Homo sapiens: one gene and its partner. The protein of the gene in region 1 binds, or shares a complex with, the protein of each later gene. Each region holds a gene or a part of one and is shown on either strand. Other genes may lie near its edges. The genes, in order: STX6 and VPS51.

Evidence for each region.
Region 2: the proteins of STX6 (region 1) and VPS51 are in contact, whole or in part, in a crystal structure (PDB 4J2C), measured with the Homo sapiens proteins. Residues at the interface, in NP_005810.1 of Homo sapiens: Met3, Glu4, Asp5, Pro6, Phe7, Val9, Val10, Glu13, Trp59, Asp60, Asp63, Leu64, Glu66, Thr67, Ile70, Val71, Phe78, Arg88; in NP_037397.2 of Homo sapiens: Ala33, His34, Met36, Leu37, Leu39, Tyr40, Tyr41, Gly42, Leu43.

Annotation. Positions count from the first base shown.
Region 1 is NC_000001.11:181,012,531-181,020,879, reverse strand, and holds part of STX6 (syntaxin-6), read left to right. Parts: intron 1-8,349. UniProt on the Homo sapiens protein: SNARE promoting movement of transport vesicles to target membranes. Targets endosomes to the trans-Golgi network, and may therefore function in retrograde trafficking.
Region 2 is NC_000011.10:65,098,615-65,106,963, reverse strand, and holds part of VPS51 (vacuolar protein sorting-associated protein 51 homolog), read right to left. Parts: intron 1-8,349. UniProt on the Homo sapiens protein: Acts as a component of the GARP complex that is involved in retrograde transport from early and late endosomes to the trans-Golgi network (TGN).

The DNA of each region.
Region 1 (8,349 bases):
AAAAATGCATTACACAGCATGCAAAAATTAAAGGTGCCTAAATTATGGCCCTTAGCCTAGGAGCTTCTGGTCTAATCTGAGAAACAAATTACCCCAAAATTAAATAGAAATGACAGGTGGCAAATGAATGAGTGTTGAAGTGAATGCTACAGATAAGTGCCTCAGGAGTTCAGAGAAAGGTAACTCCTTGGGAATTGTTAGGATTAGGAGAGCTTTTGGAGGCAGTAGTGTATCTTGAATTAGGTTTTGAAGATGGGCAGAATTTAGATAATCAGGCCTGTCTCTCTTACCTGGATGCTTATCAGAGTCTTTTTAATTGTTCTTCCTGCTTCTGGTCTCATTTCCTCTTTCAGCTGTCCTGGGATCTATTGGATCATTGCTGTCCAATAGAAGTATAATGCCAGCCATGTATGTCATTTTACATTTTCTAGTAGCCGCAGTAAAATATAAAGGAACAGGTGAAATTAATTCTAATGTAATCTCTAATACATTCAAAATATTCAACATGTGATTAAAGATTATTGATGAGATATTTTACTTTTGTACTAAGTCTTCTAAATCTGATACATATTTTACACTTACTGCACATTTAAATTTGGACATTAAATTTTCATCAGAAATAATTGATCTGTATTTAAAGTTCATTAAATACATTTTTTTTTTTTGAGACAGAGTCTTGTTCTGTTGCCCAGACTGGAGTGCAGTGGTGCAATCACGGCTCACTGCAACCTCTGCCTCCCAGGTTCAAGCGATTCTTGCACCTCAGCCTCCTGAGTAGCTGGGACTATAGGTGTGTACCACCTCACCTGGCTAATTTTTGTATTTTTAGGACTATGGGCAGGGCACCCGCCACCACGCCCGGCTAATTTTTTGTATTTTTTAGTAGAGACGGGGTTTCACCATGTTAGCCAGGATGGTCTCGATCTCCTGACCTTGTGATCCACCTGTCTCGGCCTCCCAAAGTGCTGTGATTACAGGCGTGAGCCACCGCGCCCGGCCTACATACTCTTTAATTGTTCCAAACATACATAAAAGGTTTTTGATAACTGAATTGCTATCAGTTACCAAGTTTACATTAATTAAAATTTAATTTCTGTCACACTAGCCACATTTCCAGTCAGTAGTTGTATGTGGCTTCCGTGTTGGACAGCACAGTGTAAGCTTTTCTAGAGTCCTAGACAGGTGTACCCTACTTAATATTATTCAGTGGCTGCTGCTGGCCTGCAGAATAAAGTGCCAACACTTCCTGACCTCACTGATCTAGCCTCTGCTCTCCCTTAGCCTTAGTACTCCAGCAGTGCCAGACTCAATACAGTGACTGTGATTGCTGTACTGGATGCTCTTACTCTACATGCACCCACACTGCCTGATTCACCCACGCAGCTTTCTGGAGTCAGTGTAAGCATCTCCCTTGCCTCCAGGAAGTGCTTCCTTTGTCACCCCTAATTATTGGACCTCTTCCTCTGTCTCTCTTTCATTATTAGACTATGAGCTCTGAGGTTTGGGACTGTTTTTTTTTTTTTTTTCCTCTGTATTTCCAGCCTACACCTTGAATATATAGTGTAAATGTTGAACACATACTCTTTGTTGATGGTGGTGATTGTGATGGAATGGTGCCTCATGGGTGAGAACACCACCAGCCAAAGGCCTAAGTTGGGCAATGTGTGTTAGAAATGATCTGGAAGAGCAGCCCAGGTGGAGTAGACAGTTTAGGGAAGTAGTAACAGCTCACATTTAAAGGATGCATCTCCAGTGCCAGGCATACATGTAAAGTGCTAAGTAAGCACTTTATATGAATTTTCACTCTGTAAAAACACCCATATGATGAATACTAGCCACATTTTAGAGATGAGAAGCTGAGGAAGTGTTAGAGGGGTTAACTTACTTGCCTAGGGTCACACAGCTAATAAGTGGTGTACTCAGGCTTCAAATTAGAACAACCTGATTTCACACTACTGTCAATACTTCCCAGTGCAGGTAAAATAGGGTCAAGTTATGTTGGCCTAAGGAGAATCTCATCTTGAGGCCATTACAGATTTTTAAAGCAAGGAAATGACATGAAATTAGGATTTTAGGAATATTGATTTGGTGGTAGTGTTGGATGCATCAGTGTGAGGAAAGATGAAAAAGGAGACCAGTTAGAAAGCTGTTGTAACTTATACATGCAGTGGTTAGTGCTTGGAAGTTTGAAGCTCCTTTTGGGAGGTTTTGACATTGTCAATGTCCTGTTCGGAACAGAATCCCACAACAGGGATTGCTCTTTTATCCTTATGAAGTAGGTATTATTATTGTCATCATTTCACAAAAAGGAAAATGAAACTTAGTAAAAAACTTCAACTTTATAAGCTTGTACGTAGAAGGGCCAGGATTTATATATTTATTACAAATATATATTATATATATAATATGGTCATTTTAAAAATTGGGATTATACGTTATATATGGTTTTATCACTTTTTCTTTTCTTTTTTTTTTTTTTTTTTTTTTTTTTGGGACAGAGTCTTACTCTGTCGCCCAGGCTGGAGTGCAATGGCGATGGCGTGATCTCAGCTCACTGCAACCTCTACCTCTTGGGTTCAAGCGATTCTCCTGCCACACCCTCCCAAGTAGCTGGGACTACCAATGTGCGCCACTATGCCTGGCTAATTTTGTATTTTTAGTAGAGATGGCATTTCACCCTGTTAGCCAGGCTGGTCTTGAACTTTGACCTCAGGTGATCCACACACCTTGGCTTCCCAAAGTGTTGGGATTATAGGCATGAGCCACCGCGCCTGGCCTGTTTTATGACGTTTTCATCTGTATTTCTTTATATCCTTCAGACTTCTGGGTGGCAGCTTTTAATGACTGCATTGTATTTTGTCATATAAATGTTCATCCTGGAAGATACATTATATTTATGATCACACTACAATTAATGTGGTGATAAGCCTACTTGTCATAGGTCTGTATTGCTGCTTCTGATTTTCATAGCCTGTATTCCTGGAGCATAATTGCTAATTCAGAGGGCAGGCACAGCAAAGCGTTTGATGCATACTACCACGTTGTCCTCCAGAATATTCCCCCTTGCCCCTCAAAGTGTTTGAGGGACCCAATTCCCTTGATTCCAGTACTGGGATTTTCATTAAAAAAATCTTTACTAATCTCCGGGTGAAAATATCATATTTAAATCTTGTAGTCTTCATCTTTGTATTCAGTAAGGATGTACTCAGTGTTTGTTGAGTGAACCCATTTTGATTGTTTAGTTCTGTAGTTTTTTTCCTCCCTTGTTGGCAAGTTTTTAGAATTAGCCTCCTTTTAGAATTTGCACCTTCTAATCAGACAAACCCTGAAGAAAACCATGTAACTGAGCATGTGGAGACAGAGTATAAGTGAGCCACTCCTGTGGATAAAAGGTACAAATACCATGGCTCTTTGCTATTTTATTGCTGTGGAGGTTTTGTGTGTCTGATGAGGATAGTTTTTTGTTTGTTTGTTTGTTTGTTTTTTTGAGACGGAGTCTCACTCTGTTGCCCAGGCTGGAGTGCAGTGGCGCGATCTCGGCTCACTGCAAGCTCCGCCTCCCGGGTTCACGCCATTCTCCTGCCTCAGCCTCCTGAGTAGCTGGGACTACAGGTGCCCGCCACCACGCCCAGCTAATTTTTTTTTTTTTGTATTTTCAGTAGATACGGGGTTTCACTGTGTTAGCCAGGATGGTCTCGATCTCCTGACCTCGTGATCCTCCCACCTCGGCCTCCCAAAGTGCTGGGATTACAGGCATGAGCCACTGCGCCCAGCCGAGGATGGTTTTTTTGTTTGTTTGTTTGTTTTTGAGACAGAGTCTCATTCTGTCACCCAGGCTGGAGTGCAGTGGCGCGTCTTGGCTCACTGCAACCTCCGCCTCCCGGGTTCAAGCACTTCTCCCTGCCTCTGCCTCCCGAGTAGCCCGCCATCACGCCCGGATAGTTTTTGTATTTTTAGTAGAGACAGGGTTTCACTGTGTTTACCAGGCTGGTCTTGAACTCCTGACCTCAGGTGATCTGCCCGCCTCGGCCTCCCAAAGTGCTTGGATTACAGGCATGAGCCACCGCACCCAGCATGATAACAGTTTTATTTCCAGGTTTTTGGCTGTGGATTGATGTTGAAATAATGACATAAGTAAGCTGATGAGTAAGATGGTATATGTTATGTTGTGTTCTTTAACCTTCTCTGTCTGCATATCTAGCTTTATTAACACTAGATTATGAGCTCCTCGAGGGCATCACGCATTCTATTCACTGTTGAAAAACTGTATTGGTATAGTCACTGTGAAAAAAATAACCCTTGTTTGTTAATTTTGGCCTAGTAAAATTGAATGTAAATCAAATTTAATACTTTCTAAAAAGCAGAATCCAGTGTTTCGTTGTAAGAACAAATTTGCAAGCCTTTATTATAAATTTGAGTGTTTAATATTATTTAGCTCCTTAGTTTGGAGAACACTATGCAGATAAGTGAAAGATATATTGTGTAAGATTTTGCAGTAGAGTTGAGATGCTGTGGAGATTGAAAAAAAAAGAAAGACCCATGCTGGGAATGCTGGTCAATCTGGGCCTTAAAGGAAGTGTCTGCTGAGGTGTAAGGCTCTTCTAGGCTGGGGAAACAACTGAGTGGAAGTCAAGAACCAGGAATGAGAAAGATAAAGATGGGAAGAAGACCTGCCAACTGAAACAGAATTTGTTCAGTGAGAAACCATGCTTGATACTAAAGTCAGCCAGTTTGGGTTAGGAGGAGGAGTGGGAGAGGGTTTGAATACCTGCCTGAGGAGTTTAAATTTAATCTGATTTCTATCATAAATTCTAAATCAGGAGGCAGTTTTTAAACTAGCAGTTACTATTCACTTGCTTATAGTCAGCTTTTAAGGGTTCAAACCCAGATCTTCTGATTCTACAAAGAAAACAGATTTGTGGGCCAGGTGCGATGGCTCATGCCTGTAATCCCAGCACTTTGGGAGGCCAAGGCAGGCGAATCATGAGGTCAGGAATTCGAGACCAGCCTGGCCAACATGGTGAAACCCCATCTCTACCAAAGATACAAAAAATTAGCTGGGTGTGGTGGTGGGCACCTGTAGTCCCAGCTACTTGGGAGGCTGAGGCAGGAGAATTGCTTGAACCCTCTTTTGCAGTGAGCTGAGATCACGCCACTGCACTCCAGCCCTGGTGACAGTGCAAAACTCCCTCTCAAAAAAAAAAAAAAAGATTTGTGTGGAAGTTTTGGAAAAATGCAATTAAATAAGTCTTGGTAATAGAAAGTGTCTTATAATCAGGGTTGGAAGAACTTGAGGCAAGCAGCCAATATGTCTGAGCCCCAAGGTCTCTTATTTATGTTTAAGGAGCACAAACTAGATTATCTTGAAAGTTCTTTCCAGATCTGAAAATTCAGTGATTGGATTTAAGTAGAGGTTGTGCAAGGTAAGGAGGAGGAGGAGTCAAAAATGACTCTTGTCTAGACAAGTGTTGAAACTTGGAAAATGGTGGCACTATTGGCTAAAATGAGGAAGCTAGAAAGGGAAGCAGATTTTTCTATTTTGTTTGTTTTGAATACATTATGTTTTGTAGGGAGGATATGATTAATTTGGTTTTAGGCAAATGGAATGATCCTATAGGCAGCTAAAAATATAGGAATTAAGCCTGGCTGAGTGGTTAGGGTTGGAAGTATAGTGGGGGAGTCATCAGCTTAAGAGGGGTGCTTTGAACTTGTGAATGCTGATGAGCACATAGAGGCCACAAAGAGTACTGAGAAACATTGGGATCCAGTGGAGGAAGAGGAAGGAGAAAACTGGTAGAAAACTAGAACAGCACAATGTCACAGAGACAGAGAAAGTGAGAGTTTCAAGCAAATAGATATAATGGGCCATAGTGTCAAGTGCACCAAAAATGAGGACAAGTTAAATTCACTCGTGACTTTGACCTGCAGTGTCATTGGTGGAGTTGTGGAAGCAGCAGTAAGTTAGGGTCAAAAATTGTATATAATTGTAGGTAACTGAGTAAAAATGATGTTTCATTTTCACAAGAGTAATTACAAAATATGTCACAGTGTGGTTGAATTTGGAAATGGCAATAAAGTCAAGTAAAGGGTGTGCATGTGTTTCCTTTCAAATACAAACGATGTGAATGTAGAAGTCAAGCAATAAAAAGAGTTCCTCTCTTTCTGGAGAGATGAGTGGTGAAACCAGGTTTGTGGGGTATGGGGCAGGAACCAGTTGGAGAAGAGTGAGGAGTGGGAGTCTGATGTGTTGCAGAGGCTCACTCAACCTGAATTTTTCATGTTTCATTACTAGAATGGAAACTTTCAGCCTTGACTAGCCTCTTTTACTGTATTGATGAAATGGGGATCCCTCTGTAAAGACTTGCAGAGTAGGTGCTGTCCCAGATAAAAGAGTTGTGGCAGATTGTATTTTTTCCATTGATGGCTGCACCAATAAATGTTCTGTCCTGTGTTGCTTTTCTTTCTTTTTTTTTCTTTTTTTTTTTTGAGATGGAGTCTTGCTCTGTCTCCCAAGCTGGAGTGCAGTGGTGCAATCTCGGCTTACTGCAACCTTCGCCTCCTGGGTTCAAGCGATTCTTCTGCCTCAGCCTTCTGAGTAGCTGGGTTTACAGGTGCATGCCACCACACCCGGCTAATTTTTGTATTTTTAGTAGAGACGGTTTGACTGTATTGGCCAGGCTGGTCTCGAACTCCTGACCTGGTGATCCACCCACCTCGGCTTCCCAAAGTGCTGGGATTACAGGCGTGAGCCACCACGCCCGGCTGTTTGTTTTTATTAAATTGTGAAGCTGGCATTCTTTTATCAAACTGGAGTTTGTATTCCCTTCCTTTGAACCTGGGCAGACCTTTATAAACTGCTTTGACTAGCAGATTGAAGCAGAAGTGACGCTGCTTGACTCCTGAAGCTTAAGTCATAAAAGACAACCACTATACCTTCCATCTGCATCTTTCATCTTGGAACACAAGTATAGGCTACCCTGAGCTAACATGTAACAAGTCCAGTTACATTGAAGCCACTCTGTTAGAGCATGTGTGCAGACTGTGGAGAGATAGAGAGATGTGATGCCTTTACAGCCCCAGCCTGTTTAATATTTTCAGCTGAGGTCCCAGACATTGTGGAACAGGGACAAGTCAGCTCTGCTGTGTCTGATTCCTGATCTACAGACTCCATGACATGATAAATGGTTGTTTTACACCACTAAATTTTGGGGTCATTGTTAAACAACCACGATAACTAGAACATGCCAATTCAGAGTCTGCCAGCATGGGCAAAGAAGAAAGGATAAATCAAAACGATGAAGGGGGAGGCCAAGGCAGGAGGATCACTTGAGGCCAGGAGTTTGAGATCAGCCTGGGCAACAGCGAGACCCTGTTTCTACAATAAATAAAAAAAATTAGCTTGGCGTGGTAGTGTGCACCTGTAGTCCTAGCAACTTGGGAGGCTGAGACGGAAGAATCCTTTGAACCCAGGAATTCGAGATTACAGTGAGCTGTGATTGCACCACTGCACTCCAGCCTGGTTGACAGTGAGACCCTGTCTCAACCACAACAGGAAAAAGGATGATGGGGGTTGTGGCTACACTTACGCAATTTGTTGGTACAACTGAATGACAAATACTGGGGAACAAAGCTCCCTAATGGCTGAGATACTCTTTCTTCTCATTTTACTTGGCAAACTTGGTTAGATGCAAGTAAGAAAACTTTGTGATTTTTTTTTTTTTTGGACTGTATTTGGACTGAATGTATTACTTGTGGCCCCAGAGGCTAGTTTGGTGATGTACCATATTGGGAGGTTGTATGGAAGAGGCTCAACTATCTGACGAGGGATCAATGTTGGGCTAACTTCAAAAATAAATGAGGTTGGTTTGCCAGAATCAACTTTTTATTTATGAAGAATGGAAGAATTGGCTGGGCGCGGTGGCTCATGCCTGTAATACCAATACTTTGGGAGGTCAATGTGGGTGGATCACCTGAAGTCAGGAGTTTGAGACCAGCCTGACCAACATGGAGAAACCCCGTCTCTACTAAAAATACAAAATTAGCCGGGCGTGGTGGTGCATGCCTGTAATCCCAGCTACTCAGGAGGCTGAAGCGGGGTAATTGCTTGAACCTGGGAGGCGGAGGTTGTGGTGAGCTGAGATTGTGCCATTGTACTCCAGCCAGGGCAACAAGAGTGAAATTCCATCTCAAAAAAAAAAAAAAAAAAAGAATGGAAGAATCTGAATGCTCAGATGACTTTATTTTGTTTTTCCCAAAAGATGCATTCTTCAAAGATGTGGGCAGTGTTTCCATTTTTGACAGCTACTTACTGGGAAAGTTCTGCATTGCAAGTGGTCCTGTGGGCATTGT
Region 2 (8,349 bases), on another chromosome or scaffold:
ACCCCGGCTTCTAGGAAGACCATGCCATCAAGCCACAACCCTCCTCTTTGCTGTCTCTACTGTCCTCTGACACTCCTCTCAGTTCCCCATCACTGCCTCTTCTCCTCCTCCTGTCACCTCCTTGTGCACATCCACATGGATGAGCCTTCCAATGTTCCTGACTGTTCACTGACGGCCTCAATTCAATTCCACCTATTCTTTTTTTTTTTTTTTGAGACTGAGTCTCGCTCTGTCGCCCAGACTGGAGTGCAGTGGCACGACCTCTGCTCACTGCAAACTCCAATTCCCAGGTTCACACCATTCTCCTGCCTCAGCCTCCCAAGTAGCTGGGACTACAGGTGCCTGCCACCACACCCAGCTAATTTTTTGTATTTTTAGTAGAGATGGAGTTTCACCATGTTAGCCAGGATGGTCTTGATCTCCTGACCTCATGATCCGCCCACCTTGGCCTCCCAAAGTGCTGGGATTACAGGCATGAGCCACCGCACCCGACGAGGTCTGATGGTTTTATAAGGGGCTCTCCCTGCTTCGCTTAACACTTCTCCTTCCTGCTGCCTTGTGAAGAAGATGCCTTGCTTCTCTTTCACCTTCTGCCATGATTGTAAGTTTCCTGAGGCCTCCCCAGCCATGCTGTGAACTGTGAGTCAATTAAACCTCTTTCCTTTATAAGTTACCTAGTCTCGGGCAGTTCTTTACAGCAGTATGAACCTGGATTAATATACCTAGTAATCAATCCATTACCAAGTCATGGAAGGTCTACCTGCAACATTTTCTTTGTAAGCCACTATCATCTCTTGTCCAACAACTGCCAACATTTCCCAACTAATTTCCCTAATTCCATTGAACATACCAACAATGTTCATAAAGAAAGGCGAAGAGGATAAGACAGAAATGTGTATCTGTAACAGGAGATATTTTGGTTTTGTTTTGTTTGAGAAAGAGTCTCACTCTGTCACCCAGGCTGGAGTGCAGTGGCGCGATCTCAGCTCTGGAGGCTCCTGGAGGGTGGCACGCCCGGGGAGGGCATGGAAACTCCATGCTCCTTCTCCTACACCTCGCCCTATGCACCTGCTCATCTGTACCCTTTGTAACATCCTTTGTAATAAACTGGTAAATGTGTTATCCTGAGCTCTGTGAGCCACTCCAGCAAACTGAGCCCAAAGAGGGAGTTATGGAAACCCCTACCTGGAGCCAGTTGGTCAGAAATTCTGGAGGCCTGAGGCCCTGACCTGCAGCTAGTGCCTGAAAGTGGGGAGGCAGATTTGGGACTGAACTAGTGCCTGAAGGGAGGCAGGCTTGGGGACTCAGCCCTCAACTCATGGAATCTGATGCTATCTCTGGGTAAATAGTGTTGGAATTAAATCAGAGGACACCCAGCGGGTGTCTGCTGCTTGGTGTGTGGGGAAGAAACCCAACACATTTGGTCACAGAACTCTTCTGTGGTCATGATTGTGGTGATGTGAGAGCATAGGAAGCACACAGTTTGCATTTTTCCCAAACAATGCCATAAAATATATACAAACCTTTCCATATGGTAGATCACAAAGAAAAAAACCTCATTCTTTTTTTTTTTTTGAGACAGGGTCTCCCTCCGTCGCCCAGGCTGCAGTGCAGTGGCGCGATCTCAGCTCACTGCAACCTCCACCTCCTGGGTTCAAGCGATTCTCCTGCCTCAGCCCCGAGTAGCTGGGATTACAGGCACGTGCCACCATGCCTGGCTAATTTTTGTACTTTTAGTAGAGAGGGTTTCACCATGTTGGCCAGACTGGTCTCTGACCTCAAGTGATCCACCCGCCTCGGCCTCCCAAAGTGCTGGGATTACAGGCGGGAGCCACCGTGCCCAGTCGAAAAAACCTCATTGTTAACCAATTATGAGGTCAGAAAAGGAAATCAAAACTGAAATTGCAGCATGGGTAAAATACCAAGAAAACACTAAATTGGTAAGGGCTTGGTGAATTCTATGGATGAAATGGATAATTTGCTACAAAAATAGGATTTACCAAAATGGATTGCAAAAAACAAGAAAACAGAAACAGAAAAACTAGAGAATGTTGTGAAAGAAAGGTCCTACTCCCCTTTCCCCTCCACACAAAGGCATCTGGCCCAGATGTCCAGGGGTGTTGCGGCGGCTTGAAGGACAGCGCCTTCCAATTCTCTGTGTAAACACTGCCCCAGCAGAGAAACGAGAACAGCTCTCACACAAACTTGATGGAACAAACATAACACTGTTATGAAAACATAACAGAAATACCTCACATATACACATTCATATCTCTTATGAATGGAGATGCAAGGATGAATTAAATAAACAAATGGAGATGCACAAATAAGCAAACAAAATCCAGCAGCATATTAAAATAATAATTGATAAACACAAAAGGGTTTTTGTTTCATGAATGCCAGGATGACTCAAAATTAGAGGATCTCATAATAATTTGCCATGTTAATAGATATTTCAACATCTATTCTTGATTTTTAAAAAACTCTCAATAACATATGAGCAGCTAAATATTTCCCTGACCTCCAAAACTCAGTATCATGTTTACCGAGGCAGTGCTAGAAGCACTCCAATTAAAGTCAAAACATGGCAAGGACAACCTTGATTGCCAATGTTATCTACATTGTTCTGGGGCATTAGCCAACTCAGCTAGAGTCACGAGATGTATTATGGAGATACACAAATTGGAAAGGAGGGAGAAGTATCACTATTTGCAGATGATATAATCAAATAAATAGGCCAGCCACGGTAGCTCATGCCTGTAATCCCAGCACTTTGGGAGGCCGAGGCAGGCAGATCACTTGACGTCAGGAGTTTGAGACCAGCCTGGCCAACATGGTAAAACCCTGTCTCTAGTAAAAATACAAAAAGTAGTTGGGCGTGGTGGCAGGTGCCTGTAATCCTAGCTACTGGGAAGGCTGAGGCAGGAGAATCGCTTGAACCCTGGAGGCACAAGTTGTAGTGAGCTGAGATTGTGCCACTGCACTCTAACCTGAGTAATAGAGCAACACTCTGTCTCAAATAATAATAATTGAATAAATAGAAAGCCCTAAAAAAAAAAAACAAAAAAAAACACCCTGTAAACGTTACTATAAACAATAAGAGATACCACTTTTCACTTCTCAGATTGTCAAAGATTGAAAGAGGTATTCTCTTCTTTGCTGGTGGTTATGCAAACTGATCAGCATTTACAAAGAAGAATCTGGAAATATCTAACTGCAATCACTTGTGAGCCTTCACACACCCACACCTGGTCTGTGTGTGGCTCTGGGACTGTAGGAATGTTCTCCAAGCAACACTGGGAATCTACCCCACTTGGGGAGACAGCTGGAAGGGTGAGTAAGGAGAAAAGCATTGATGTCAATTTGACAAGAAACAAACAGAAACAAAAAATGCAGGAAAAAAATATTAGAGAAAATATAAGAGAAAGAACTGTCTGAGACAAAGAATCTACAGGGCTCACATCTGTAGAGCTATTAAGGGATTTTTTAAAAAATTACATGGAAAGGTAGATTACGTATCAGCAAAATGGACTTTTCATTTTAACAACACAGTCCACAAGAAAGGATCATTTAGCCCTCTTAGAGATGATTTCATAGAAAGGAAGGTTACTAAGGAATAAAATCACATGATGTGAAACATCTATATTACTTTTGGGACCATAGGGACCATTGCCTGCATTTTGTTGGGGAAATCATAATTATTTTGAGTTTCTTTGCTTGAGATAGGGTCTTGCTCTGTCTACAGGCATGGTGATGCACACTTATAATCCCAGCTACTCAGGAGGCTAAGGCAGGAGAATCACCTTAACTGGGGAGGCGGAGGTTACAGTGAGCCAAGATGGCATGCAGTGGTGCAAACACAGCTTACTGCAGCCTTGAACTCTGGGGCTCAAGTGATCCTCCTACCTTAGCTTCTGAAGTAGCTGGGACTACACACAAGCGCCATCACACCCGGCTAATTTTTTAATTTTTGTTTAAATTTTGTGTAGAGATGGGGTCTCTCTATGTTGCCCAGGCTGGTCTCAAACTTCTGGGCTCAAGCAATGCTCCCACTTCAGCCTCCCAAAGTGCTGGGAGCACAGGAGTGAGCCACTGTGCCTGGCAAGAAAATTTTTCTTGCCAATTCATAGATGGTGAACTAAAGGACATAGCAAAGGCAGCGCTATGCAGTGAAAAACAATAAAAGCAGAGCCGAGGCTGAGGTTCGTAAAGGGATCATGGGCTACTGATCTAAGGGAGACAGACAGAGGCTTGGCAGTTGATGAGGCATTTGGTCTTCACCCAGTGAATTACTGGTTTTGTTTACAGGCCATGTGACACAATCTCCTTCCAGGTCTGCCAAAAGCTACCATGAAAAGAGCAGACTCTTTTGGTAGTGGGTGTTTGAGCCCATGACACTTAGGGGCTACCTCAAGAAGGAAGCTTGAATCCAACTTCTAAAGGGTAAAATCCAAACACTAAGTTGTTAGGAAAATAGAGTAAAAGAAAACCCAACAGTGCTGTGTGCTGTCATTGTCGCTGCCTTCCCAGCCATGGAGCCATTACACTGGAGATAAAAGTTGTACCATATCCAAAAACAACAGTGAAAGCATCCACACCATTCAGTCACAAAGACTACACTGTTTATCTTTGCATTTCAAGCTTGTTAAGAAAAGCAGGCTGGGCACAGTGGCTCACGCCTGTAACCCCAGCACTTTGGGAGGCCAAGGCAGGTGGATCACCTGAGGTCACCTGCCTGACCAACATGGTGAAATCCCGTCTCTACTGAAAATACAATAATTAGCCAAGTGTGGTGGCAGGTGCCTGTAATCCCAGGTACTTGGAAGCCTAAGACAGGAGAATCACTTGAACCCCGGAGGCGGAGGTTGCAGTGAGCCGATTGGGCCACTGCACTCTAGCCTGGATGACAGAGCAAGACTCTGTCTCAAAAAAAAAAAAAAAAAAAAGCTTGTTAAGAAAAGCAGTTTGTAACCAGGGAGAGTGAAAGCCATCTGGATGCGAGGATGTTGGCTACCTTGGGAGGGGACTGGGTGGTAACTGGTAGGAGGCTCAGGGGGCTTTGCTGGTTATGCTGTTTCCCGACCTGGATGCTGATTATGTGACTGTGCTCCCTTTGTGAAATCCATGGAGCTGTCCACTTATGTGCACTTTTCTGTATGTCTGTTAATTTTCTTTTTTTTTTTTTTTTTTTTTTTTTTTTTGAGACAAGGTCTGGCTCTGTCACCCAGGCTGGAGTGCAGTGACACAATCTTGGCTTACTGCAACCTCTGCCTCCCAGGTACAAGCCTTCCACCTCAGCTTCCTGAGCAGCTCGGACTACAGGGACACAACACCACACCCAGCTAATTTTTGTATTTTTTGTAGAGACAGGTATAACCTGTTGGCCAGGATGGTCTCGAACTCCTGAGCTCAAGCAATCTGCCTGCCTCTGCCTCACAAAGTGTTGGGATTATAGGTATGAGCCATAATCCCACCTGGGCTCTGTTAATTTTCAGTGAAATGTACTGTCAAAGACTGCTTTGTCTTTGCCTAGAGAAAAGAATTAGGAGAGGCTTTTCCCTGTATAATGTTTGAGATCTTTCTAATTTTGACACAAGTAAATGCATTATTACATAATGAAACTCAATGTCTAGGTGAGAGGTTGGCAAACTACAGCCTGCAGGCCAAATCTGGCTCAATGCCTGGTTTTCTTTTTAATTGGGATATAATTGACATACCAATTCAGTGGTTTTTAATATGTTTAATATATTCACAAGGTTGTACAACCAACCTCACTACGTAATTCCAGAACATTTCATCATCCCCTAAAGAAACCCTGTAACCCTTGGCAGTCATTCCTTATTCCCCCACTCCTAGAACTTGGCAACCATTAATCTAGTTTCTGTCTCTATGGATTTGTCTATTCGCTACAGAATACATTTAACAGAAATGGAATCATAGGCATATGAAACATTAGCATGTTTCCAAGGTTAATCTATGTTGTAGCCTGTGTCAGTATGTTATATCTATTTTTATGGCTGAATAATATTCCACTGTGTGGATATTTGTTTATATTCATTCAATTGATGGCCATTTGGATTGCTTCCACCTTGTGGCTATTATAAAAAGTGCTGCTATTGGCCAGGCATGGTGGCTCTTGCCTGTAATCCCAGTACTTTGGGAAGCCGAGGCAAGCGGATCACTTGAGGTCAGGAGTTCAAGACCAGCCTGGCCAACAAGGTGGAATCCCGTCTCTAGTAAATATACAAAAAATAAAAATAAAAAAATTAGGCGGGTGTGATGGTGCACACCTATAATCCCAGCTACTCAGGAGGCTGAGGCAGGAGAATCGCTTGAACTGGGGAGGCGGAGGTTACAGTGAGCCAAGATGGCACCACTGCACTCTAGCCTGGGTGACAGAGCTAGACTCCATCTCAAAAAAAAAAAAAAAAAAAAAAACACTGCTATGAACACTTGTGTACATGTTTTTATGTGAACATGTTTTCAATTCTCTTTGGTATATTCCTAGGAGTAAAATTGCCGATCATATGGTAATCTTGTGTGTGGTTTTGAAGAATGGTCAAACTGTCTTCCACACTGGGTGCAGCATTTTGTGGTTTGGATTTGCATTTCCCTAAGACCTAATGATGCTGAGCATATTTATATGTGCTTTTCGGCCACTTGTATGTTTTCTCTGGAGAAGTGTCTATTCAAATCCTTTGCCCATTTTAAATTAGGGTTATTTGTCTTTTTAGCCCTGAGCTAAAAAACGTTCTTTTTATGTTCTGAACACTAGATTTTTATTAGATAACTAACTTGCAAATATTTTCTCCCATTCTGTGGGCTGTCCTTTTATTATTATTTATTATTATTATTATTTTTGAGACGGAGTCTCGCTCTGTTGCCCAGGCTGGAGTGCAGTGGCGCGATCTCGACTCACTGCAACCTCCGCCTCCTGGGTTCAAGCGATTCTCCTGCCTCAGCCTCCTGAGTAGCTGGGACTACAGATGCCTGCCACCATGCCTGACTAATTTTTGTATTTTTAGTAGAGATGGGGTTTCACCATATTGGCCAGCCTGGTCTCAAATGCCTGACCTCAGATGATCCACCCGTCTCGGCCTCTCAGAGTGCTAAGATTATAGGCATAAGCCACCGCACCTGGCCTTTTTATTTATTTATTTATTTTTTGAGACTAGGTCTTGCTCTGTCACCCAGGCTAGAGTGCAATGGTGAGATTATAGCTCACTGCAATCTCCAGCTCCTGGGCTCATGTGATCCACCCACCTTAGCCTCCCCAAGTAGCTGGGTTTATTCTAACAAGTGTGTGCCACCATACCCAGCTATTTTTTTTTTTCTAGATATCGGGTCTCACTATGTTGCACAGGCTGGTCTCAAACTCCTGGGCTCAAGTGATCCTCCCACCTCAGCCTTCCAAAGTGCAGGGATTACAGGCATGAGCCACTGTGCTCAGCCCCATCCATTCCTGCCAGTGCAGCTGGAGGAATCTATTCAAACCAGAAATCTGAGCACATCACTCATTTGTTTTAGCTCTCTGTGGATAAAAGCCAAATCCCTAATACATTCTGGAAGGTTTCTAGTTAAACTGCACATCTACTATCTGCCTGGCTCTGCCCACATTCTGCTTCCCCTCCTGCTACCATAGATGAGCTCCCGGCCCTTTGCTGAGGCCGATGCCTCCATCCCTGCTCTGTTCCACCCCCCTCCTTCCTGAGGACCTAGTTCCTTTCTCATTTTTCTCTCTCTCTTGCCCAATCAACACACACTCCATGCTACATTACTTTCCTGAGTGTCTCGCCCAAGTCTATCAAATCTATGTCTTGAAACACCTTCCTCACGCAACCTCCACCTCCTGGGTTCAAGCAATTCTCCTGCCTCAGCCTCATGAGTAGCTTGGACTACAGGCATGCACCACCTTGCCCAGCTAATTTTTGTATTTTTAGTAGAGACAGGGTTTCACCATGTTGGCCAGGCTGGTCTTGAACTCCTAGCCTCAAGTGATCCACCCACCTCAGCCTCCCAAAGTGCTGGGATCACGGGTGAGAACCCCATGCCCGGCCCCTCACTTAAGCTTCTAAGACATCAATGCTCCTGGTTATCCTCACACTTTTCCAAACGTTTGTTCCTTTTGTGGGATGTACAAAAAGAGCTAAGTCTCAAAATATTATTATACACATTCCAACAAATGGAAAATGTAATCTTATTAAATTCCTGTGAGAAATATCCCAGCACAGAAACTATGATTTCTTGCCATTTTGATGCTGGTATTAGCTAACAGAAAGGTGCCTACTCATGGAATCTGCTTCAAATCAGATAAAAGAACAATGTGTATAGGTTACCACACCCACCACT